7 linked regions of the Homo sapiens genome follow. The protein of the gene in region 5 interacts with the protein of the main gene of each other region in a pairwise test. Each region holds a gene or a part of one and is shown on either strand. Other genes may lie near its edges. The genes, in order: ZBTB8A, LCE1E, EDC3, RUFY1, PIAS2, FKBP6 and CREB1.

Region 1 (3,500 bases), on a different chromosome or scaffold from region 5:
GAATTCACAAGGAGTTGGTTAGCCCAAAAAGTAAGAGACGAAAGAAATTTTATTAAGACTAGATTGTCAATGTAATCCTAAGTATGGAACTTTAACTTCGGTATTTGATATATTTAGAAAGTTGGGTAAATTCAGACTGCTATGCTTTTTTTTTTTTTTTTGAGATAGAGTTTCGCTCTGTTGCCCAGGCTGGAGTGCAATGGCGCAATCTCCACTCACTGCAACCTCTGCCTCCTGGGTTCTCCTGAAGCGATTCTTCTGCCTCAGGCTCCTGAGTAGCTGGGATTACAGACATGCGCCAGCACTCCCAGCTAATTTTTGTATTTTTCGTAGAGACATGGTTTCACCATGTTGGTCAGGTTGGTCTTGAACTCCTGACCTCATGATCTGCCCGCCTCAGCCTCCCAAAGTGCTGGGATTACAGGCGTGAGCCACTGTGCCCGGCCTGTATTTGTATCTTAATAAGCTAAATACTCCTCTGAGTAAGTACACAGGAAAAAAAAAAACTATTTAAAGTGAAAATATGTGTCTCAGGGATTGAACTATTTAGAAAAGAGCTTTAAACATTTAAGAGTAATCTAACCACCCACAGATACAGGTTTGGAAAATCATGGGTTTTGACCCTTAGTATTCTTATTATTTTGATTGTCATTATATTTATTCAATATTATTTTGAATTAAAAAATTTAAATCCACGTTTTATGAAATGAATTTCTTCTTTTTTTGTTTTTTTGAGACAGAGTCTCACTCTATCGCCCAGGATGGAGTGCAGTGGTGTAATCTCAGCTCCCTGCAACCTCCGCCTCCCGGGTTCAAGTGATTCTCCTGCCTCAGCCTCCTGAATAGCTGGGATTACAGGCACACATCACAATGCTCGGCTAATTTTTTTGTACTTTTAGTGGAGACGGGGTTTTGCCATGTTGGCCAGGCTGGTCTCGAACTCCTGACCTCAGGTGATCTGCCCGCCTCAGCCTCCCAAACTGCTGGAATCACAGGCGTGAGCCACCACGCCTATCCTTACTAAATAAATTTCATTACAAAAATAGAACTTTTGAAAAAAATCACTTGCTTCAACTGCTTAGAGCACCTGAAACTAAGGGTGTTTTGACAGTAGACTGATTAATATAGCAGTTTGGAACCTGGATGAGGGGACTTATGCTCTTTTTGGGTACCTGGAAAGCTTTTGGATGTGACATCAGATCCTTGACCGTACTGATAGCCAACAGGAGTAGAGTCCATTTCAGCATCAATCTGTGCTTGTTCTTCAGACTGGGAAACATGGCTGGAAGAATCAGATGTTCGTACTTCTCGTTTGCTTGACTTATAATGAGTAACTTCAGAAGGCTGTGACAATCTCAAATGTTTGGTCTTTTTAATGGACTCTTTCCTTGGTTCATGCTTGGCCAAGGGTTGTTGAGTATTCTTCTGGGAGGCTGGATGATAATTATACTTATTCCAAGATTTTCCACTTATTATACCTGTTCCTTGCTCTGGGCTTAGGTGAGAACGTGGAGAACTGCTTCCTTCTTGCCAGCCACCACTATAAAAAGAGGAACGTTCTACACCATTAGAATTGGCATCTTTATCTGAGAGACTGAAATAGCGATCTTTTTCTTTCTCACTAATGTCTAAGGAAGATTTAATAAAAGTCTTACATACACTTATGACATCAGTCATCTGAAGGAAGCTAGCAGCCGACATCACTTCTATGACATTCTGACCAGTAAGAGACAGTTTGCCAGAATATACGAAGTCCAAGATAACTGTAAAAGTGTCAGGGGAGAAAGCCTGAAATGTAGCTGTGGTTGGCTGACTCGTCTCCTTTGAATTCTGAGAAAGAAGCATTTTAAAGTAGCCGCTACTAGCGAATAATACATTTCGATGTGCTTTGAAGACCTTCCCTTCAACTAGAATACTGCAGTCACAAAATACATCTTGCCTGCGCTGCTCGTTCAGTTGCTGCAGGAGGTGAGACTGATGAGAGGAGATCTCCATTCTGAAGAGGAAAAGACACATGTGGTTACCAAAACCTACATTACAATTATTTTATTTTGTTTTGAGACAGGATCTTGCTCTGTGGCCCAGGCTGCAGTGCAGTGGTGTGATCAAAGCTCACTGTGGCTGGGCACAGTGGCTCACTCCTGTAATCCCAGCACTTTGGGAGGCCAATGCGGGGGAGATCACCTGAGGTCAGGAGTTCGAGGCCAGCCTGGACAACATGGCGAAACCCTGTCTCTACCAAAAATACAAAAATTAGCTGGGCGTGGTGGCGGGTGCCTGTAATCCCAGCTACTCAGGAGGCTGAGGCAGACAAATCGCTTGAACCTGGGAGGTGGAGGTTGCAGTGAGCCAAGATCACACCACTGCACTCCAGCCTGGGCCACAGAGCAAGACTCTATCTCAAAAAACAAACACCCCAAAAACAAACAAACAAAAAAAGCTCACTGCAACCTTGAACTCCTGGTTTCAAGTGATCCTCCTACCTCAGCCTCCCAAGTAGCTGGGACTACAGGTGTGCACCACCATGCCTGTTTTTTTTTGTTTTTTTGTTTTTAATAGAGATAAGGTCTCACCACGTACCCGAGCTGGTCTCCAACTCCTGGGCTCAAGCAATCCTCCTGCCTCAGCCTCCCAAAATGAACAATCCTTTTCTAAGGTGAGTCAACTAAAATAATAATCAGAAGCCTCTTTTATTCCATTAAGAACACTTTCTTGTTGGAGAATATAATCGCCAAGACACAGAAGATAATAGGTTTCAACATATCACTTAATACTAGACTGTTATCAGCCAGGCGTGGTGGCTCACGCCTATAATCCCAGCACTTTGGGAGGCCAAGGCGGGCAGATCACAAGGTCAAGAGATGGAGACCATCCTGGCCAACATGGTGAAACCCCGTCTCTACTAAAAATACAAAAATTAGCTGGGCATGGTGGTGCGTGCCTGTAGTCCCAGCTGCTCGGGAGCTGAGGCAGGAGAATCGCTTGATCCTGGGAGGTAGAGGTTGCAGTGAGCCGAGGTTGCGCCATGCACTCCAGCCTGGCGACAGAGTGAGACCCTGTCTGAAAAAACAAACAAACAAACAAACAAAAAACAAAAAAACAACTAGACCGTTATTAGATTTTAGAAAATTACTTGTTTTATTAGCAAAATTTATTGAGCATCTTCTTTCATTTTTTAAATATAGAGATGAGGTCTATGTTGCCCAGGCTGGTCTTGAACTCCTAGGCTCAAGCGATCCTCTGGCCTCAGCCTCCCAAAATGCTAGGATTACAGGCATGAGCCACTGCATCCAGCCAAGCATCTTCAATAAATCAGGCCTTCTGCTATATGCTGAACCAACACATTTGATTTTTGCCTTCATGTTGTTTTCAGTCTAAAAGTGTTATCAGACATTAAACAAAGACTCCAGCCCAGGGTGGTAGCTCACGCCTATAATCCCAGCACTTTGGGAGTCAGAGGCAGGAGGACAGCTTGAGCCCAGGAGTGTGAGACCAGCCTG
Region 2 (3,797 bases), on a different chromosome or scaffold from region 5:
TCATTTCCACATAGCTTCAACAACAATGTTTTGTAAGCTAAAATGCTCACAGAAAGCTTGTGAACCAATAATGAGTTCTCATCCCCAAAAGATGAGCTATGCTCTTTTTATTAATGAGATTAAATTGCTTTTAAAATCTAATTTCAGAAGTTATTGGTTTTCTTCATTAATTATTTGTGAATGAAATATGAATTCTGCCAAAACTTTTATAGGAACATTTATTTACTCAGTTTTTATGAACTCTATGTTTCTTACCAATATGAGTCATCTCCCTATCACATATATTATAATTTTCCCAAGTTAATTTTTTACCCTTCCTTGCTTTTAGTGGTACTATCTGATACTTAGAATTTCATTTTAATGTGGTTAACTGTATCCACATTTTCATTTATGTATTCTAGATTTTGTGTTATTTTGAAAATCTTCTCAATAAATTAACTACATTTTTGGTGTGTTATTGCAATTATAGTTATGCAGCTATAAATATTTGACAAAACTCATTTAATTTTACATTTAATTTTATTGAATTTTATTGCATGCAAATTATACAGCACTAAATGTGATTTAATTTTTTTACAATGCAGATTCATCTCATCTATGTGCATGTACATATGTGTGTGTGAATGCATGCACATACAGTATGGAGGAGGAGTCCAGGGAGATTGTTAGTGGAAGGAGTGGGGAACGAGGAACACAAGAATGAAGAGGTGATAGTGGGAAGGAGGATGAAGTCGGCCTCCTGGCCATGCCTGAGGGATGCGGTTACATAGGTGAAAGGAACCAGAATTTGAAAGAAAAATATTTCTCAATGCTATTTCAGTCCCTTGGTTTAAAAGGAAAACACCGAAAGAAGAAAAAACACAAAACACACAGAAATGCAAGCTTTTTCCTCCTGACCCCTTTCCCCATCCTCTGTCCACCAAGGCCTCAGCAGCCACCAGCAGACACAGGGGAGCAGAACAAGGATGACACAAACAGGAAAATCAAGCAGGCTGGTAGCAAGTTGGGGGGCAGATTCTGGATTTTATTTCTTCAGTTCAGGCAGCACAGAATACAGCAGCGTGAGCTGGGGAGGAAGTAGGTGTGTGCTTTGGAGTTCCCAGGGCAGCCATGGATCTGCAGAAGAAAGTCTCTAAATGCCATTAAGGAGAAAGATTTTGGGTTTCCTGACACCAGAGCAGAGGGATTCTCCAGGCAAGACTTCAAGCTTTTGCTGGAACCTCTCAGCTATTCAGGCAGAATCAGAAGGAAGAGGAAGTCAAGGTCCACTTCAGCAGCAGCCTCCAGAGTGCTGGCCGCTGCCCCCTCCACAGCAGCTGGAGCCCCCTGAGGGCTGGCTGCAGCAGTCAGAGCTCTGGGGTCTGTGACGGTGGGACCTGTGGTGCCTGTGGTGGCTCAGGCAGCAGCCACCTCCCCCAGAGCTGCAGCAGCCCCCAGAGCTGGAGCCACAGCTGCCCCCAGAGCTGGAGCCACAGCAGCCTCCGGAGCTGACACTGCAGCAGGAAGAGACTGGAGGGCACTTAGGGGGACACTTTGGAGGGCATTTGGGGGTGGGACACTTGGGAGGGCACTTGGGAGTGCACTTGGGAGGGGGCTGGCACTGCTGCTGGCTCTGCTGGCAGGACATCTCGGCAGTAGGTACTTAGGAGCTGAGGGAGAGTCAGACAGAAAATCAGACCTAGGCAGAGGCCACCTCTGCCCCTCTGACACTCTTAGCATGACTTGTAATTATGGAAACATCATGTCCAGTAGTTTCACTTCCAATACTTTCCCCAAATTCTCTCATCATCTCTTTGCAAGCTCAGGATACCCTTGTGTGTTATCTGCTACACAAAATTGTAAACTAAGACCAAACAATATTACAAAATGCATCTGACAGTCCAAAGTGTTATAAGTGAAGGAGGAAATTATTCCAAATATGTCTTCACACCCTGAAATTATATGATTTATAGGTCATTTAGGGAAAATTATTTCTTAAAGAGAAAAAGTAATCACTACCTTTTGTAACTTGCAAGGTAGTTTTACTCTGCAATATCCATACTACAAAAGATCTTGGATATTACTGGCTCAGTAAACTTACTTTGTTGAAGCAGAGACAGACAAACCCATAAATTCCTGCAGCCCTGGAATTTGAACCCTGGCCTCCTGATCTTAGGCTGGAGCTCAGATTTCCTCAGCTTACCACCTGCTCAGGCTGATGGGTGGGCATGGTGAGTCTCAGGTTTGGTGTGTCCTAATCAACCTGGGAAATTTGTGAACAAATCCCAGACCCATAAAAGTGTCGGTTCCATAAGCCCAAAGGAGCCTCTGGTCCCCTGTCCATGGCTCCAGCTCTTCCTTGCAGACAGGGACAAGGTTGTATTTTCAGAGGTGGGCTTCCTTCCTGTGGTCTGTCAGAGTGCCCCAGGTCTCTGTGCTTTAAGGTTTCCCATCCTGAGAGGACTGCTCCACCCTACAGCAGTTTTTTTTGGAGCCCAAAGGCACAGCCAACCAGTTATTCTTTCTGTCCCAGTTGTTACCAGTCTCCTCCCCCATGGAAGCCCTGCCCACCACTCCTCCTAACCTGATCTGAGCATCCCTCTGTGGAATCCCCTGCTTCTGTTCCCAGAGGACACATACCAAAGTCACAGGCAGCACAGGGTCCTTCGGCACCTCAGGAAGTGAGTGAATGGGGTGCTCTGGCCCTGAGCCCTTTTATCCCAGCCTGGGTTTCTGCCTCCTGTGGTGAGACAGGGCCTGGGCATGAGAGGACTTGCCCCCTGATACCCACGTGGGTCCTGTGATAGGTGGTGACTAGCAGCTCCTCACCTGCCTCCCTCCCCAGGCTGAGGGCACCTGCTGCTAGATAGGAGTAGGGCTGCTTAGAAACAAAGGGTGGGGACAGTTTATACAGGACCTTCTGCCCCATTCTTCCTGGTAAATCCCAGCCTTGACCGCTTTTTAGTTCTCGTTTTTGCACACTGGCCTGCAATTCCTTTGTTCTTTCTTGTTGCCCATGGAACTCATTGGCTTCTGGCAGCTGAGTTTGGACTGTAATTCAGAGATTCTTTCACATTTTCCCTCTTAAGTCTAAATAATCCTCCAGGCTACTGGGGGTCAGCTAACTTCTGTCTGCAGCCCAAATCTGCCTGCTGTCTGATTTGGATAGCCTCCAAGGTTTTTAATGCGTTTAAATTGTTGAGAAAAGAAAGCAAAAGAGGAAAATATTTTACAACATATAAAAATTATATTAAATTCAAATTTCAGGCTTCATAAAGTTTTATTTCTCTGACTTAGATAATGAGCCACATTTATTATTTTATTGATTGTGTCTGTGGTACTTTTCACACTAAAATGGAGAGCTGAGTAACTGGGATAGAGATGCTATGGTTCCCAAAGCCTAAAACATTTAATCTCTTAGAGTTTTAAAAAAAAAAAAAATGCTGACCCCTGATGCATTCCATTATATTTAAGAGCTTGCAGTCAGACAGGCTAGAAAACTGCCCTGGTTCTGCCACCTAGTAGCTGTGTATACTTGTGAAAATTACTTAACTTGACTCCTTTTCAGTTTGTTGTTCTTGTTTCTTCCTCAGTTTAAAAGTACAGATAGTGATACAGATATCTCACAGGGTATTGAGCCAGCCAGTAAAATAATATAAGGAAAAAGTCTGGTAGAAGGTCCGTGACATGATAGACCCTTAAAAAATGTGATGCCTACATATGCGTCAATAAACGAATAGGTATTTTGAAGTCATAGCTGCTTTCCAAGATGGGGGGTGGGGTGGGGTATAAATCTGGGATTTGGGGTTGTTTGGTTT
Region 3 (3,500 bases), on a different chromosome or scaffold from region 5:
GACAGGGCAACATAGTGAGACCTTGTCTCTACTAAAAGTAAAAAGACTAGCCAGGTATGGTGGCACACACCTGTAGTCCCAGCTACTCAGGAGGCTGAGGTGGGAGGATCATTTGAGCCTGGGAGTTCAAGGCTGTAGTGAGCTGTGATCGTATCACTGCATTCCAACCTGAGTGACAAAGCAAGACCCTGTCTCAAAAATGAATGAAAGAAAGAAAGAAAGAAAGAAAGAAAGAAAGAAAAAGGTTAAAGTCTAAATGGAAAGAATCATTTTCTATCCAAGCATTCTACAGTTTTTCTAAGGATACAGAAGTCACAACTGAATTTCAGTCTCATATTTGCAAACATCGTCATTTCAGATAGTTGTTTCATATGCACCAAAGGAAACTACCTTGAAACTGTATATTACATACATTAAAACATTTTTTTAGGCCAGGTGCAGTGGCTCACGTCTGTAATCCCAGCACTTGGGGAGGCCGAGGCAGGCAGATCAACTGAGGTCATGAGTTCGAAATCAGCTTGGGCAACATGGCATTATCCCATCTCTACTAAAAATACAAAAATTAGCCGGGCGCAGTGGCTTATGCCTGTAATCTCAGCACTTTGGGAGGCCGAGAGTTTGAGACCAGCCTGACCAACATGGAGCCCCGTTTCTACTAAAAATACAAAATTAGCCAGACGTGGTGGCACATGCCTGTAATCCCAGCTACTCGGGAGGCTGAGGCAGGAGAATCTTTTGAACCCAGGAGGCGGAAGTTGCGGTGAGCCAAGATCACGCCATTGCACTCCAGCCTGGGCAATAAGAGCGAAACTCTGTCTCAAAAAAAAAAAAAAAAAAATTAGCCGGGCATGGCAGCAAGTGCCTGTAGTACCAGCTTCTAGGGAGGCTGAGGCAGGAGAATCACCTGAACATGGGAGGTGGAGGTTGCAGTGAGCCAAGATCACACCACTGCACTCCAGCCCGGGCAACAGAGCAAGGCTCCATCTCAAAAAAAAAAAAAAATTAGTTTTAATTTAGTTGTTTATTCACTTGAATCAGGCATCTCCAAAACTTAAAATGTTGGCCCCTGACACAGGTGTCACACCACAAGCTACTAATAGAATTCACCCAGCACACTAAAACCTTACTACATTGCCACCAGGACCACAGTGTGAGGAGCAACAATGGTAGCAAGAAGTATCCGGAATTTTATGTAATAAACTTTCTGAGTGGGGTCTAGAGAGACCTAGCTCACTCTAAATTGTGCCTTTTAGAAGGTATTGCCATAGCATGACTCTAGCTTATAATTTTAAATGAGTTAATGAATACTCATTTAAAATTTCTTTTGGTTGTTCATTTTGAGACAGTCTCACACTGTCACCCAGGCTGAAGTGCAGTGGCATGATCTTGGCTAATCACAACCTCCGCCTCCCTGGCTCAAGCCATCCTTCCACCTCAGCCTCCTGAGTAGCTGGGACCACAGGTGCACGCTGCCACGCCCAGCTAATTTTTTTTTTTTTTTTTTTTTTTTTTTTGTAGGGATGGGGTTTTGCCATGTTGCTCAGGCTGGTCTCGAACTCCTGGGCTCAAGCGATCCACCTGCCCCAGCCTCCTGAAGTAGTGAGATTACAGGTGTGAGCCACTTGCACCCAGCCTCTCACTTAAAATTTCTAATACATTCTGCTACCATCTGTGAGTACAAAACCATCTAAGTAAAATAAGAATAGTTTGGCATTTGGAAGTAATTTTTTAAAACAACATTCATATTAATTTAAGGAGCATAACAGATTCCAGTGAATGTTATGATTCGCTATTGTAACATTATTCTAGTAAATATGTTGGAGAAGAACAGTTCTAGTGAATTAACTATGGTTTTGGAAGGCAGCTATGCTCACCATCATACCACCAACACAACTATGGTTTTATTTTATATTATTTATTTTATTTTTGAGACAGAGTCTCGCTCTATCGCCCAGGCTGGAGTGGCACAATATCAGCTCACTGCAACCTCTGCCTCCTGGGTTCAAGGGATTCTCCTGCCTCAGCCTCCAAAGTAGCTGGGATTACAGGCATGCACCTCCACGTCCGGATAATTTTTGTATTTTTAGCAGAGACGAGGTTTCAACATGTTGGCCAGGCTGGCCTCAAACGCCTGACCTCAGGTGATCTGCCCGCCTCAGCCTCCCAAAGTGCTAGGATTACAGGTGTGAGCCACCGTGCCTGGTCACAACTATGGTTTTATAATCAGCAAATGGCATTTAATAATGTGTTAGTATCAAACAAAACTGGGCAGCAACAGAGACCAATGCACATTCTTCTTGGTGTGTCAGTAGGAACAAATACAGCAAATTAAAAATTGTCTGCTAGAAAATCAAAGATCACAGAGATGTTTGGATCAGTCCCCTCCTCTCTTCTGAGGATGAGACTCAAATCACAGGAAGAAAAGTTACTCAAGAATCCTCTGGAACAGCCCAAGTGCAGGTTCAACTCAAACACTACTACCAACATCAGTAACAGGATTTAAGTTTTTTTTTTTTTCTTTTTCAGAAACAGAATCTCACTATTTTGCCCAGACTAGCCTTGAACTCCTGGGCTCAAACAATCCTCCTGCCTCAACCTCTCAAGTAGCTGGGACTATAGATGCGTGCCACCACGCCCAGTAGTTCCTGGATTTAAAACATCACTGTTAGTAAACTCTGGGCAGACTTTTCCTGAAGGAAGTGGTAAGAGAGGGCAGGAAGCTCACAGGCATCCCTAACAGCTTATTTCCTTTCCCTTAACATCTTGAGGAATGAGGCCTGGAGGAAGAGAACCATGTTGTATTTCTGTGACGCTCAGCCAGCATCCATTTTATTGGAATAACAAAGGATTTGTTTAAAGAGCAGCAGTGCTTATGGCTTATAGCCCTGAAACACCAGATTGAGAAGAAATATCAACTTGACCCTACTTACAGGAGTTGTGCCGACGACGGAAACTTTTGGACTGACTCAAGGATTCCATGTGCCTGTCGACATAGCTCTTTGAGCACTGTTGCTGCTGCGGGGAAACGGCAACATCCTGGCTCTTCACATCTGTCCTCTTAGGGATATTCTGAGGGGCACTGCTGGAAGAGGCTGGCTTCTTGACAAACTTGCCTGTGCCATTCTGATTGATGCCCACTTGGCAGCCAGCACCAGAGGGGCCTAATTCTGTTTGATGAAGGTCTCCAAAATGTTGGTTGTCTCCAGGTCCTGGTATCTCCAGAATTTTTAACTCCGTAATGTCACCTGCCCTGAAATACACAAAAAAGCCAAGTCTCAAAATTATAATAGTGGTAAGAATGATGAAACTGAGATCATTAGCAAACAGCTACCCCTTTGCAGGACTGCATTTTATTGAGTTATCAGAGGCTAGGAAAGGGGGCTGTGTGCTTAAGGACAGGGGTCAGCCACCAACTATCCAACTGACACAATGCTAGCCTTTAAAAAGAGGCTATTGGCCGGGCACGGTGGCTCACGCCTGTAATCCCAGCACTTTGGGAG
Region 4 (3,500 bases), on a different chromosome or scaffold from region 5:
TGCTTTATTCTCTTCATGGCACTTGCCTCTATCTGAGCTGCCAGCAGGCTTAGTGGTTTATGATTTGTCTTTGTCTTATGCTCCTAAAACAGGAGCTCCCTAACAGCCTCCCCACACCCTGGAGCCGCCTGGCCCCCACACAAAGGGTGCGGGGAGAGGAGCCTGCCCGGAGCATGTTAGGGGTTTCTGGAGGCTGCCAGAGGCTCTCCTCTCCCGGGATGGCCCACCTCACCTTTTTCAGTCCTTCCACTTGTTGCAGCTCCATCCTGAGTAGAGAGGAAGTGTCTTTCTCGTGCTGTAATTCGCGCTGAAGAGCCTGTCTTTGCTCTTTTTCTGATTTCAATTCTTTCTCCAGGCTTGAGCTGTTTTCCCAAAATGAACTTGAGTTAGTCTCAGTGGGAGACTTTCACGGAAGATTCACAACCCAATTCACCGCCCAGGAAACAGGGAAGTCTCTGAATTGCCTCTTGAGCATCTAAAGCCTTCGGCAACGCTTCCCTCTCCTCCAGGGTCACCTGCCCTTCCACAAGAAAGAGCAGGAACCAGGGAGAGAAAAGCCTGCAGGCACACACTTGACACTTACGCAGGGGAGAAGGAAGAGAGCTCTAGAACACTTAGACCACATAAGCAGAACCCTCCCGACATGGAGACCTGAGGAAAGGAAGCTCAAAATTCGTTCTTTTCTTTTTTTGAGACAGGGTCTAGCTCTGTCACCCCAGCTGGAGTGCAGTGGCGCAACCTCAGCTCACTGCAGCCTCGACCTCCTGGGCTCAAGTGATCCTCCCGCCACAGCTTCCCAAGGTGCAGAGATTACAGGCATGAGCCACCTCACTGGCCAATTCATTCTGCTTTTTGTTTTTTTTTGAGACGGAGTCTCGCTCTGTCGCCCAGGCTGGAGTGCAGTGGCACAATCTTGGCTCACTGCAACCTCTGCCTCCTGGGTTCAAGCTAGTCTCCTGCCTCAGCCTCCCTAGTAGCTGGGATTACAGGCACACGCCACCACGCCCAGCTAATTTTTTGTATTTTTAGTAGAGATGACGTTTCACCATGTTGGCCAGGCTGGTCTTGAACTCCTGACCTCGTGATCTCCCTGCCTCGGCCTCCCAAAAGTGCTGGGATTATGGGCGTGAGCCACCGCGCCCGGCCTCATTCTGCTTTCTACAACCTACAGCCAGACTGACAATGAAGGATCCTGGAGGGAGAAGGCCAGGAGGGAGCCTCAGCCTGAAGCTGACTCTGCCCTTTACCAGCTGAGTGGCCCTGGGGGCACTGCTGGACCGCCTGGAGTCTGCTCTCTCTTTGTGGGAATAAAGATGTCTCTTCTCTCTTCTCTCAACATCAGGCTTTTAACTTGGCATATATATTATCTCAAAAAATCTATAGGCCAGGCACGGTGGTTCACACTTGTAATCCTAGCATTCTGGGAGGCCGAGACGGGTGGATCACTTGAGGCCAGAAGATTGAGACCAGCCTGGCCAACATGGCAAAACCCTGTCTCTAATAAAAATACAAAAATTAGGCTGGGCGCAGTGGCTCACGCCTGTAATCCCAGCACTTTGGGAGGCCGAGATGGGAGGATCACGAGGTGAGGAGATCGAGACCATCCTGGGTTAACACAGTGAAACCCCGTCTCTACTAAAAATACAAAAAATTAGCCAGGTGTGGTGGCTGATGCCTGTAGTCCCAGCTGCTCGGGAGGCTGAGGCAGGAGAATGGCGTGAACCCGGGAGGCAGAGGTTGCAGTGAGCCGAGATCGCGCCACCGCACTCCAGCCTGGGCAAGAGAGTGAGACTCGGTCTCAAAAAAAAAACAAAACAAAACACAAACACAAAAATTAGCCGGGTGTGTTGATGTACACCTGTAGTCCCAGCTACTCAGGAGGCTGAGGCACAAGAATCGCTTGAGCCCAGGAGGTGGGGGTTGCAGTGAGCTGAGACTGCACCACTGCACTCCAGCCTGGATGACAGAGTGAGACTTAAAAAATAAAAAATCTGTAGATGAACTGTGCACAAAATTATATGAAGCTTGCATCAGCAAAGGCTAGGTGAAAGGTGACTTTCTGTTCAACACTGACAAAGCTGTTTCTTTTTAGAAAGGGTGGTTAAGGGTGATACAGGCTGTGACCTGGTACCATGGTTTGAGAGTGGCCAGATCTTCTGGAGGCGAGCTGGACCACGTGAGGAGCCCTGTGGGGAGGGAGCTCCCTAGGGATAACATACGAACCCTGCAGGGGTGAGTGGTGAAGCAGGATACCACCTGCCCCCCCGCCCCCCCTCCTCCCGTTCGTGCTGAAGCAGGATACCACCTGTCCCCAGTTCTTCCCAGTCCCTCCTGAGCCACACCCCAGCCCAGGCTCCCTGCAGGGCCCCTACCATTGCTCGTGCAGCTGGGAGAGCTGCAGCTGCAGGGCGCCGATCCTCCCGCCCAGCTCCTGCTGCAGCTTGTGGCTCCGCTCCTCAGCCCCCTGCCTCGCCCGCTCCGAGTGCTGCAACCTGGATGCGACACCAGCAAGAGTGCAAATGAAGCAAATCTTTGTAAGGAAAGGATGACTTTTGCTGGCTGAAATTCATTTTTAAAATTACCATACAGTAAAATTAACTCTTGTGAGTTTTAACACGTGGAGATTCAGCTCCACCACAATCAGAATACAGGACGGTCCCACCACTCCCAAAACTCCCCACCTCAGCCCCTGGCAACCACTCATCTGTCCTGCAACAATATGGCTTTGGCTTTTTGAGAATGTAATCTCAATGTAATTATACATTATATAACCTTGAGACTGACTTTTTCTCAGAATAATGTCTTGGAGATCAATCCAAGTTTCCATGTGTATCAATGGTTCATGCCTTTTGTTTCCTCTCTGAACGTCCTGAAAGGGCAGTGGTTCATTCCTTTCTACGGCTGAGTCATACTTCACCGCACAGACGTACCACTTTGTTTATCCATCACCCAATGCAGAACATTGGGATTGCTTCTAGCTTTTGGCAGTTATGAACGGAGCTGCTATAAACATATGTACTAGTTTTGGTGTAGACATAAGTTTCATTTCTATTTGGATCATATGGTAAGAGGACGTTTAGCTTCTTGAGAAACTGTTTTCCTGAGTGGTTGCACCATTTTGCATTCCTACCAATAAAGTATGAGAGATCCATTAGCTCCGTGTCCTCATCAGCACTTGGTATTGTCATTAAAGAAACGGTAGCTGGCCAGGTGTGGTGGCTCATGCCTATAATCCCAGCACTTTGGGAGGCCTAGGTGGGCAGATCACCTGAGGTCGGGAGTTCGAGACCAGCCTGATCAATATGGAGAAACCCCATCTCTACAAAAATACAAAATTAGCCGGGCATGGTGGCAGGCACCTGTAATCCCAGCTACTTGGGAGGCTGAGGCAGGAGAATTGCTTGAACCTGGGAGGTAGAGATTGCGGTGAGCTGAGATCGCACCATTGCACTCTAGCCTGGGCAATGAGAGCGAAACTCTGGCTCAAAAAAAAAAAAAAA
Region 5 (3,395 bases):
GTCTAGATTCCCATATCAGTCTCCTAGATAGCACAGCTAATTAACGTCACTTCAGTTTACGCAGAGAGCTTTTGGGGTAAGTCTAGGTCAGACTCCCAAGTCCACTACTCATTCACTGTGACCTTGGGAAACTTACCTAAACCTGTTTCATTTGTAAAATGGGGAATAACACCACTTTCCTCTGAGAAGCCATTGCAAGAATGAGACATTCTTGGAAAATTCTTTGCACAATGCCTGTTACTTTTTTTTTTTTTTTTTTTTTTTTTTTTTGGTCTCACTCTGTCACCCAGGCTGGAGTACAGGGTCATGATCCTGAGTCACTGCAACCTCCGCCTCTCAGGTTCAAGCAATTCTCATCCCTCAGCCTCCCAAGTAGCTGGGATTACAGACATGAGCCATCATGCCCTAATTTTTTGTATTTTTAGTAGAGATGGGGTTTTACCAAGTTGGCCAGGCTGGTCTCAAACTCCTGGCCTCAAGTGATTTGCCTGCCTTGGCTTCCCAAAGTGCTGGGATTACAGGCATGAGCCACCATGCCCAGCTTAAGAATTCTTGATTTTTGGAACCTTGATTATAAGCTGCCTGATGTCTGGAACCAAAACTTCTGTAACACTCTATTCCACGTGTACTTACAAAACACTCTAAACATTTATTAAACAGTTTGATGAAGGCCAAAATAAGAGGCATATGCTATTCTACAACACGGTAACACTCTTCGTCACTTAAAATAATTAAGCTTTGAGAACACAAAATAAAGCTTTTTAAAAAAGCCATTCAGAAATAGGAAGCAGTTTGGGAAATGATTGTGCTACGCCAATCAAGAAAATGTTGTACCTCAAACATCTGAAGGTAGCAATCTGTTTTTTTCTTTCCCTGCAGCTACCCTTATTGGAAACATAAGGGAATATAAAGTGAAAACAGGCAATGTTTGCCTGTTTTTATAGCTTTTAGCCTTACCACTTTTCAGTTTGGGGATGGAATGCCTTTGGCTCAGTAGATTCTACTGGCTTTGGGGAGCTCAGAAAGGCCATAATGGGGCCTACAGGAAGAGGAAAAAGAGAGCTGACCTCTTAAGGGCAGGCCTTAGGTACAAGAGGCTTTTTTTAAAAAGTGACAAAACTTTTGAACTAAAGATGGAAAACGTAGTCTGACAAAGAATATTTGTGCAACTTTACAGTGCCAGTAAAATCATGGGAAAAGCTTGGATAGCCATACGTAGGTGTTTCTGAAACATGTCAGATTTTATATATATATATATATATATATATATATTTTTTTTTTTTTTTTTTTTTTTTTTTAGAGAGTCTTGCTTTGTTACCCAGGCTGGAGTGCAGTGGCACAATCTCGGATCACTGCAAATCCTCCGCCTCCTGGGTTCAAGCGATTCTCCTGCCTCGGTCTCCCAAGTAGCTGGGACTACAGGCGCCTGCCATCACACCCACCTAATTTATGTTTTTGCTAGAGATGGGGTTTCACCATGTTCCATGTTAGCCAGGCTGGTCTCCAACTCCTGACTTCAGATTATCTGCCCGCCTTGGCCTCCCAAAGTGCTGGGATTACAGGCGTGAGCCTCCATACCCGGCCCATGTCAGATATATTTAAAACTAAGAAAGCTTGGGAAAATCTCTGCCAATGATCTCCATATCAGTTAACCCCGTTCCATAGAGTCAGAAAGGCAGAGGGTCTTAGTGCAGATGCCTGCATAAAGATAAAACGTTGCATGTTCTTGGAAAATATGGCTAGACCACCCTTCCCATACCATCTAGCTGCAGTATAAATTAACATACCCATGTGGAAAAGTGGTATGAATCAAGAACTACAAAAGTGTTCATATACCCTTGACTAGAAATTCCACCTCCAGTATTTTATCCTAAGAAAATAATTTATACACAAAGACATTCATTGTGGCATTATGAGATATAATCTAAACTGTTCAAAATAAGTAAAGGTTATATGAAACATGGCACATCCATAACAATGGAGTACCATAAAATTAATAATAGTTGACACAGTTTTAATGACATGGAATAATGCCTGTAGGTTGCGGGGAAAAACCCCAAGATATAAATTACACTGAGAATGATGAAACTAAGTAAAAATATGCAGAAGTAGCAAAGACAATGGCAAGGAAGATGCAAAAATATCAAGTGATTTTTTCTGGTGACAGAATCATAGGCAATTAATTGTTATACTTTTCTGTATTGTCTAAATTTTCCACAATAAGCATGTACTACTGACATAAACAGAAAAAACAAACATTATTCAACCAGGCAAGCATTAAAGAATGGACATTGGGTACAGCTTTATTTATTTCTTTTAGGAATTGCAGGTTCCTAACAAAGTAGGGGTGAGGGGGGTGTTACAAACCAGTCACTAGGCAGGAACATTAGACTCCAAAAGCAGAGAAATGCTTAATTTTCTTCTACCTGTTTCACCACATTCATGTAGAACTGTAGTAAAAAAGATGGTGAATCAGGCTGAATCAATCTAAATAACAACTTAAGGCTCCCAAATCACATGAACCTAGGACCACTAAATCCAATGTCAGACGTGTTTAAATGGTGCACTGCTCTACATTTTTCTATTATGCAAAGAGCTAGAAAATAATGGTAGTGTCATTATGACATTCCATGAAAATGAAGAAAATCTTTCAGGAAAAATTAAGAAAATAAAAATGTTTACTAAAGAAAGAATGGTCCGGCTAAGTGCTTTTTTTTTTTTTTTTTTTTTTAAACCAACTGAAGGCCAGAGAAATGAAAGGCATACCCGTGAATTAAATTAATGCTTTAAAAAAAATTGACTTTACTTAAAATACAAACAAACGTCAACTAATGAATACTTTATTGGCAGAAAAAAAAGACAACTTGGCTGGAAATGCTGAGTGTCTTGGACTGGTCTGAAGGAAGAACATCTGAAAGGTCTGAATGTCAAAGTCAGAACAGTCTCTGGTCAATCCTACTTTGCTTAAAATCCAACATTTTACCTTTCTTCAAATTCCTCAAGACTAAGGAAAACTTGGTTTTATACCAAGAATTATGAATCAACCTACACTTGCTATCCCTTACATCACATTTTCATTCTAGCTTTTCTGAAACACATTACCAGATAAATGCCATATAACCTAAATTCACCTCAATGCTTTCATTTTGCCTTTACAATTACCTTAGGACAGATGCCAAGTTTTTATAACTTCAGGCCAGAAAATCCTCAAGTGGCTCACCTAATTGTCAGAAAGTGAGTGAGTGACAACAGACCTCAGGCACGAAACTATTTTCAGCACCAATTACACTGTGGGGGGTTACCAGAACAAGAAAAGGCCTTCATAGTTCTAAGTGAAGAAAGATAAAAACATTTTATTTTGGCCAGGCGCGGTGGCTCACGCCTGTAAATCCCAG
Region 6 (3,500 bases), on a different chromosome or scaffold from region 5:
AAGAACAAATAGCCCTTCAATTTTCTAAAATTTATTTTTTGTAGAGATGGGATCTTGCTATGGTGCCCAGACTGATCTTTAACTCCTGGCTTCAAGCAATCCTCCCACCTTGGACTCCTGAAGTGCTGGGATTATAGGTGTGAGTCACTGTGCCTGGCCCCCCAGTTTTAAATGAAAAATTCATCAGAAGAGGTGGCAAAAAGTCAAGGAAAGCTTCCATACATGACACAAACAGGAGAAAAGATGGAAACTAGGTGGGGAGGGGGGAGGGACAGCAGCCAGAAGCTCAGTGCAGGAGGTCTGATAATAGGAGTTCCAGACAAAGAGGGCAGAGGGAACAAGAGTAAATTATCAAAGAAATAACTCAAGAAAGTTTCCCAGAGTGGAGGAAAAGTTTCCTGAATGAAAAGATACACACACGCAGAGGCACATCACCGTAAAATTTAGGAATGCCGGGGAAAAACGATCTTCGTCTCTACAGAAGAAAAAACAGGTCACGTAGAAAGGAATAAAGAACCTAAGTAGTAGTAAGATTTTTTTGTTGTTGTTGTTAGCTTTGAGCTCAGAACTAGCAAGACCTTTTTTTTTGAGATGGAGTTTCACTCTTATTCCCCTGGCTGCAGTGCAATTATGCCATCTTGGCTCACTGCAACCTCCACCTCCCGGGTTCAAGCAATTATCCTGCCTCAGCCTCCCAAGTAGCTGGGACTATGGGCACCCACCAACACGCCCAGCTAATTTTTGTATTTTTAGTAGAGACGGGGTTTCACCATGTTCGCCAGGCTGGTCTTGAACTCCTGACCTCAGGTGATCCACCCGCCTCGGCCTCCCAAAGTGCTGGGATTACAGGCATGAGCCACCGTGCCCAGCCAAAAGACTTTTTAATAACAACTCTAGACAAATATGTATTTAAAAACCAAGAATATTTTAGACATACATCAACATACTCTGTTAAAACAAAGGAGTAAGTTGAGAAAAAAACAGGAAATCCACAAACTAGCATTATAGGGCAGCCCCAGGACAAGAGCTGTGTGGCGGGCCCCAGGGAGATTCTCCCCTGGCCACGCATTGCGGGGTCACCTGGGTGGGAAGGAGGGAGGGGAGAAGAGTCTGGTGCTTGTGTTATGTTAAGAGCTTTCTGGAAGACCCTCCAGAGGTTTCCCTTTATGTCTCCTTGGCTAGACCCTTGTTACAGGGACACCCTAAGCTCATGGGAAGCTGGGAAGATGTAGTTTTTTAATTAGTACACTGATGCTTTGAGTGAAATGGGAGGTTCTGTTAGGAGAAGGGGGAATAGATATTGGGTGACAGGGTCGGCAACATTTGGCCTATATGAGTATGTTCCAGAGACAGCACACGCATGTGTGGTGTTTTGTTTTTTTTTTTTTTGGAGACAGAATCTTGCCCTGTTGCCCAGGCTGGAGTGCAGTGGTGCGATCTTGGCTCATTGCAACCTCCGCCTCCTGGGTTCAAGTGATTCTCCTGCTTCAGCCTCCCAAGTAGCTGGGATTACAGGCACCCACCACCATGCCAGCAAATTTTTGTATTTTTAGTAGAGACGGGGTTTCGCCACGTTGCCCAGGCTGGTCTCAAACTCCTGACCTCAAGCTATCCACTCGCCTCAGCCTCCCAAAGTGCTGGGATTACAGGCATGAGCCACTGCGTCCAGCCATGTTTGTTGAATGAATAAAATTAAAAAGGAAACAGAAAACAGCTCAGCATAACCTACACAAGAAGCAAAATCACAACAGGAGGCTTGATGAGGCTGCAATTGCCTCAGGCTAGAATCGCCAAATGAGCCTCCACTGTCAGAGACATGAAATGATGATGGCAAAGGGGTGGAGAAATCGGTTGGTGGAGGACCTAATAAGCACTGGGATGAGAATTTTTAAAAGTTAATAAACTGAATTGTTTTAGAGCAGTGAGATGGAAATTCTAAACACTTCTAGTTCAAGTACATATACAGAGGCAAATGTTTTTCACAACCTGAACACACCCATGTACCCAAGAACCACGTCAAAACACAGAACATTCCCAGGTGCCTCCCAATCCCGTGAGTCCTCTCTCCAGCCCTTATCCCCTCGAGAGTCCCCTCTTCAGCCCTTATCCCCCCGTTAGTCCCCTCTCCAGTACTTATCCCTTTGGCATGAGGATTTTTTTTTTTTTTGAGATGGGAGTTTTTTTGCCTTTCTTGCCCAGGCTGGAATGCAACGGCACAATCTCGGCTCACTGCAACCTCAACCTCCACCTCCTGGGTTCAAGTGATTCTCTTGCCTCAGCCTCCCAAGTAGCTGGGATTACAGGCACCCACCACCACGCCCGGCTAATTTTGTATTTTTAGTAGAGACGGGGTTTCACCATGTTGGCCAGGCTGGTCTCAAACTCCTGACCTCAGGTGATCCACCTGCCTTGGCCTGGCATGAGGATTTTTTTAAATGAGATTTTTCTTAATGGCTGCTCATAGAAAGTAGGGAGAAAGACAAAAATCTGTGTTTTTTGCCGGGCGCGGTAGCTCACACCTGTAATCCCAGCACTTTGGGAGGCCGAGGTGGGCAGATCACGAGGTCAGGACATTGAGACCATCCTGGCTAACACGGTGAAACTCTGTCTCTACTAAAAATACAAAAAAATTAGCCAGGTGAAGTGGCGGGTGCCTGTAGTCCCAGCTACTTGGAAGGCTGAGGCAGGAGAATGGCGTGAACCCAGGAGGCGGAGCTTGCAGTGAGCTGAGATTGCGCCACTGCACTCCAGCCTGGGCGACAGAGCGACACTCTTGTCTCAAAAACAAAACAAAACAAAAATCACAACAAAACAAAATCTGTGTTTTTTAAACAAGGAAGTTTTCAGGATCTAAACTTACACTTAACTTTCAAAGCATTCTCACCCTTTTATATCTCACTTTGGCATCATAGAAACGATTCTGGCGGAAAAGGTAGTTGCCAAACTCCCGTTCCGTAGCTGCCACTTTCAGGACCTTCTGAAGTGGAAATTGGTCTTGCTGCTCCTGAGGACCAGAGACAGGAATATTCAGCAAGGAAACCAAAAGCAGTAATGCCACAATGGAAGTGTTAGTACACGTGAGCCCAGGAGTTCGAGACCAGCCTGGGCAACATAGTGAGAACATGTCTCCATTTAAAAAAATAGTAATTGAAAGAAAGGAAGTGTTACTACAGCTGTGAGCTCTTCTTTTTCAGATCATGCACTTCTGTTTACAGCCTTCTGTGTTGGAGTCACCTCTGAATCTGACAGAAGCCACACCAGTGTTATAACCTGTCCCATTTTACACCCTAGAGCCAGAAGGAAGTCTACGTCTTCAGTCTTCCCCTGATGTTCTCTGAGGAAGCAGTGTCCCATGGAATCAAAAACTGACGGAACTTGCCAAGCACAGAAGTCAGTGCTCAAAACCACTATTTGGCCACCAAGCACTGAACAGGTCTTGGTTTGCTCAGGGCCCTGGCAGTCTTTATGGTCATGATGCTCTGCCCTGGCCATCTTCAGAG
Region 7 (3,500 bases), on a different chromosome or scaffold from region 5:
AAGCAGGGCTTCCAAGTCCTAGCCCTATCCCTCCATTTTGGGAGAAGGTATTAACCTTCTGTACCTCAGTTTTGTAAAATGGGATTCCAGCACACACCCAAAGTATTGTTGTAAGAGTCAAGTAAGAGAATCCTTTGAAAGCACTTTGTAACTGTAGTGCTCTGTTGAAATGGGTTTGTGTGTGTGTGTGCAATTTCACAGCTCAGATCAGCTTTTTTGTTCCTAAAATATTCTTAGCTGTCACAATGTTAGTAAATTATATCTAAACTCTGAGAAATGGCAGAGATTTTTCTGGGATATTAGAAAAAGAGTTGGAAACAAGCCAAGTGACTTTTTTTTTTTCTCCCGAGATGAAGTCTTGCTCTGTCACCCAGGCAGGAGTGCAATGGTGCAATCTCAGCTCACTGCAGCCTCCACCTCCTGGGTTCAAGCAATTCTCCTGCCTCAACCTCCCGAGTAGCTGGGATTACAGGTGCCCACCACCACGCCTGGCTAATTTTTGTATTAGTAGAGACATGATTTCACTATTTTGGCCAGGCTGGTCTCGAACTCTTGACCTTGTGATCCACCCTCCTCGGACTTCCAAAGTGCTGGGATTACAGGTATGAGCCATGGTGCCCAGCCCTCAAGTGACTTTTATTTGTGCTCCATCCATCTGTGATTTTGAGTATTTAAGTTTTACTAAAGAGAAGCATAAAAGCTGCATTCATAATTCAAATATATTTTAAAATATAAATTAAAATCTGTAAATAAAAATTAAAATATTTTCAGTTTTTAAAAATGTTTATAAGGAAACCTTTAACTTAAAATTAGAAGCAAGTCTGATCAAGAAGTCTCAAGCACAGGCTGAGTAGTAATATTTAAGACAACACTGCTTACTAAAGAAAAGAGTTCAAAGCAAACATAGGAGCAGAATCAAAAAATAAATCCTTTTGATTATAAAAAACAACAGAAGGACTTCTGTTTATGTCTATGTAGTTTGGCTGTGTGGAACAAAATGTTTACCCCCGTTGACTGGCAGACCAAATTTCCTTTTTGTTCTATTTATTTTTCTTTCAGATTTATGACCACTGCCACCAACAAGTTAGGAACAGGGCACACATAACTACAGTTCCTACCAGGCTTTGCTTGCCTGAGATCTTCAGGGAAACTACCCGACTTACCATGGACTCTTTCATAACATTACTTTGCTTAGATATAGTTACCCTACTCTTTAAAAAGGAAACTTCTCATTGATTCTGCCATAGTTCCTTTTCCCCTTTGTTACCAGATTACTGCTGCTTTTACTTTTTCAGCCTCCATTCACTGGAATCTGGCTTCTATGACTAGCATACCGCTCATATGTCTATAAAAAGGTACAAATTCCCTCCCACTTGGCAAATCTAGTATTTTCTTTCATTTAATTTTAACTCTATGGAGTATTTGACACTTTCGACTTCTCATTACTCTAAACTCTTCCTTGGCTTACTTCACCTGGTTTTCTGGCTACTTTTCAAATTTTTCCTTTGAACCTTCATCCATACCCATGTATTTCAGGCATTACTTTATATGCTGATACTTCTTAATTCTGTATATTCTGGCTTTGACCTTTCTGCCGAGTGCTATTTATTAAGCTCCAGTATATATTATTTTATTAATTCTACCTACAGTGAGGTAGAAGCTTATCCCCACTTTAGAGGAGGAGAAGGTAAATATCAGAAAATTCAAATATTTTGCCAAAGGTCACACACTTTATGAGATTAGTAGAACTGAAATTTGAACCCATATCTGGCACCAAAACCTGTAAACATGCTACTTCACTGATTCCAGTATGCAGCCATCTTCTGCTGTGCCTCTCAAACCAGAGCACATGGCAGTATGCTAGGGATGTGTAGCCTAAGGAGGTGAACGTGGAGTGCTTTCCTTGAATGTTCATTTTGCTAAAATATTTGAGAGAAATAAACCTTATTTTTAAGGTAAAATAAGAGTTTTAAAAGAAATTTATACCAGCAGTGGTTTTGCTGCACCCCCAGAGTCTCCATATTTGGTTTCCTCTTCTAGTGTGGCTATTTCAGTGGAAAAGTTAAGAGAAGCACACTCCTAAGCATGCTCACTAGGATGAATTTCCCTTATGCACATCAAACACAGCCTATCTTAAAGTTTGATAGGAAAAGATTGTAATCCAAAAAATTCATCACTATCCAAATTGCCATTTATTTCAAGATGAAGGTAAGTGGTAAACATTCTAAAAGAAAGTGTAGACAGCTCTTCTGTTAATTTGTGTTGCTACAGTAACAACCACGAATCTCAGTGTCTTAAAATTTCTTCCTCACTTCTGTTACATTTTGGCAGCTGCAGGTCAGTTGCTGTGGCTCTCCTTCATGTGCCCATCTGGGTCTAGGATCCTGGGCTAGATAGAGCAGCACGTCTTTGAGAAAAGGGCAATGCTTTTGAAAGCATTTGCTTGATTTTGGTGAACGTTACATCTACTCGTGATCTGTTAGCCACAGCACAGGCAAGGACAAGCCCAAAGTCAGTGGAGTGGGAATGAACTCTTCCTACAGGAAGTGGAGAGTGAAAAATTGTGAAAGTAATACAATCTATCACCTTTGCCTTTATGTAACTTTACATTGTAGGGGGATTTTAAAAGCAGATTCCCTAAAGGCAGAAGTAACAAAGGAAAAGGTTAAATGGATTTGACCATATAAAACTATAAACCCCCTATTTAGGAAAGTAAAAGATAAAGTAGCAAACATTTTAACAAATAATGTCAGAAGACTAATGAGTTGAGGGATATAAATAGGCAGATTCTTAGAAAATGGATAGGGTAAAAAATTTGAAAAATTCTAAAAAAATTAAAATGTATTTGATATGAATTAAAATATATCCATTCAACTATATACAACTAGCCATTAAGAGTAAATAAAGGTGTATTTTTATTAAGATGGGAAGATGTTCTCGGACAAAAGCAGGTTACCAAAGAGTATTTACATTACTATCAGGTTTTTTAAATTTATTATTACACAAGTAAAACATGTTCATTATAAGTAAATTAAGAAACATTACCTAAAAATTGAATTACTTCTAATTTCACCATCTAAAATGTTAACATTCTAAAGTCAGTTTTTTTACTCAAACCAGTACAAAGGTAAATATACATTTTTAATATATTTTTAAGTAATTTTAAACTTACAAAGGAGTTTTAAAAATACAGAGTTCCGGATACCCTTCATCCAGCTTTCTCTAATCTTAGTATATTACATAACCAGGGTACATTTATCAAAAATAAAAGTACATTGGTATAATACCATTAACTGAATTATACATTTTATTTCCCCAGTTTTTTTACTTACATAATCCAGTTTGGGTACCATATCGCATTTAATTATAGTCTCCTTCAGTCTGTGAAAGTTTGTTTCCTTGTCTTTGATGGCCTTGTAACTTTTGAAGAGTAGTGATCTGTTTTCTTTTAGAATATCCCTCAGTTTGCATTTGTCCAGTGTTTTCTATGGATAGATTGA

Evidence for each region.
Region 1: the proteins of PIAS2 (region 5) and ZBTB8A interact in binary tests that used the Homo sapiens proteins (3 or more experiments, as listed by UniProt).
Region 2: the proteins of PIAS2 (region 5) and LCE1E interact in binary tests that used the Homo sapiens proteins (3 or more experiments, as listed by UniProt).
Region 3: the proteins of PIAS2 (region 5) and EDC3 interact in binary tests that used the Homo sapiens proteins (3 or more experiments, as listed by UniProt).
Region 4: the proteins of PIAS2 (region 5) and RUFY1 interact in binary tests that used the Homo sapiens proteins (3 or more experiments, as listed by UniProt).
Region 6: the proteins of PIAS2 (region 5) and FKBP6 interact in binary tests that used the Homo sapiens proteins (3 or more experiments, as listed by UniProt).
Region 7: the proteins of PIAS2 (region 5) and CREB1 interact in binary tests that used the Homo sapiens proteins (3 or more experiments, as listed by UniProt).

The regions. Positions count from the first base shown.
Region 1 is NC_000001.11:32,591,427-32,594,926, reverse strand, and holds part of ZBTB8A (zinc finger and BTB domain-containing protein 8A), read right to left. Parts: intron 1,997-3,500; 5' UTR 1,996-1,996; coding exon 1,173-1,995; intron 1-1,172. UniProt on the Homo sapiens protein: May be involved in transcriptional regulation.
Region 2 is NC_000001.11:152,785,130-152,788,926, reverse strand, and holds LCE1E (late cornified envelope protein 1E), read right to left. Parts: upstream 2,671-3,797; 5' UTR 2,620-2,670; intron 1,650-2,619; 5' UTR 1,628-1,649; coding exon 1,271-1,627; 3' UTR 501-1,270; downstream 1-500. UniProt on the Homo sapiens protein: Precursors of the cornified envelope of the stratum corneum.
Region 3 is NC_000015.10:74,668,525-74,672,024, forward strand, and holds part of EDC3 (enhancer of mRNA-decapping protein 3), read right to left. Parts: intron 3,251-3,500; coding exon 2,931-3,250; intron 1-2,930. UniProt on the Homo sapiens protein: Binds single-stranded RNA. Involved in the process of mRNA degradation and in the positive regulation of mRNA decapping. May play a role in spermiogenesis and oogenesis.
Region 4 is NC_000005.10:179,595,554-179,599,053, reverse strand, and holds part of RUFY1 (RUN and FYVE domain-containing protein 1), read right to left. Parts: intron 3,151-3,500; exon of another isoform or gene 2,493-3,150; coding exon 2,373-2,492; intron 2,233-2,372; exon of another isoform or gene 2,093-2,232; intron 802-2,092; exon of another isoform or gene 699-801; intron 363-698; coding exon 233-362; intron 1-232. UniProt on the Homo sapiens protein: Activating adapter involved in cargo sorting from early/recycling endosomes. Regulates retrieval of proteins from endosomes to the trans-Golgi network through interaction with the dynein-dynactin complex.
Region 5 is NC_000018.10:46,806,113-46,809,507, forward strand, and holds part of PIAS2 (E3 SUMO-protein ligase PIAS2), read right to left. Parts: 3' UTR 1-3,395. UniProt on the Homo sapiens protein: Functions as an E3-type small ubiquitin-like modifier (SUMO) ligase, stabilizing the interaction between UBE2I and the substrate, and as a SUMO-tethering factor.
Region 6 is NC_000007.14:73,331,161-73,334,660, reverse strand, and holds part of FKBP6 (inactive peptidyl-prolyl cis-trans isomerase FKBP6), read right to left. Parts: intron 3,005-3,500; coding exon 2,885-3,004; intron 1-2,884. UniProt on the Homo sapiens protein: Has an essential role in spermatogenesis. It is required to repress transposable elements and prevent their mobilization, which is essential for the germline integrity.
Region 7 is NC_000002.12:207,578,462-207,581,961, forward strand, and holds part of CREB1 (cyclic AMP-responsive element-binding protein 1), read left to right. Parts: intron 1-1,059; coding exon of another isoform or gene 1,060-1,105; exon of another isoform or gene 1,106-3,360; coding exon of another isoform or gene 3,361-3,485; exon of another isoform or gene 3,486-3,500.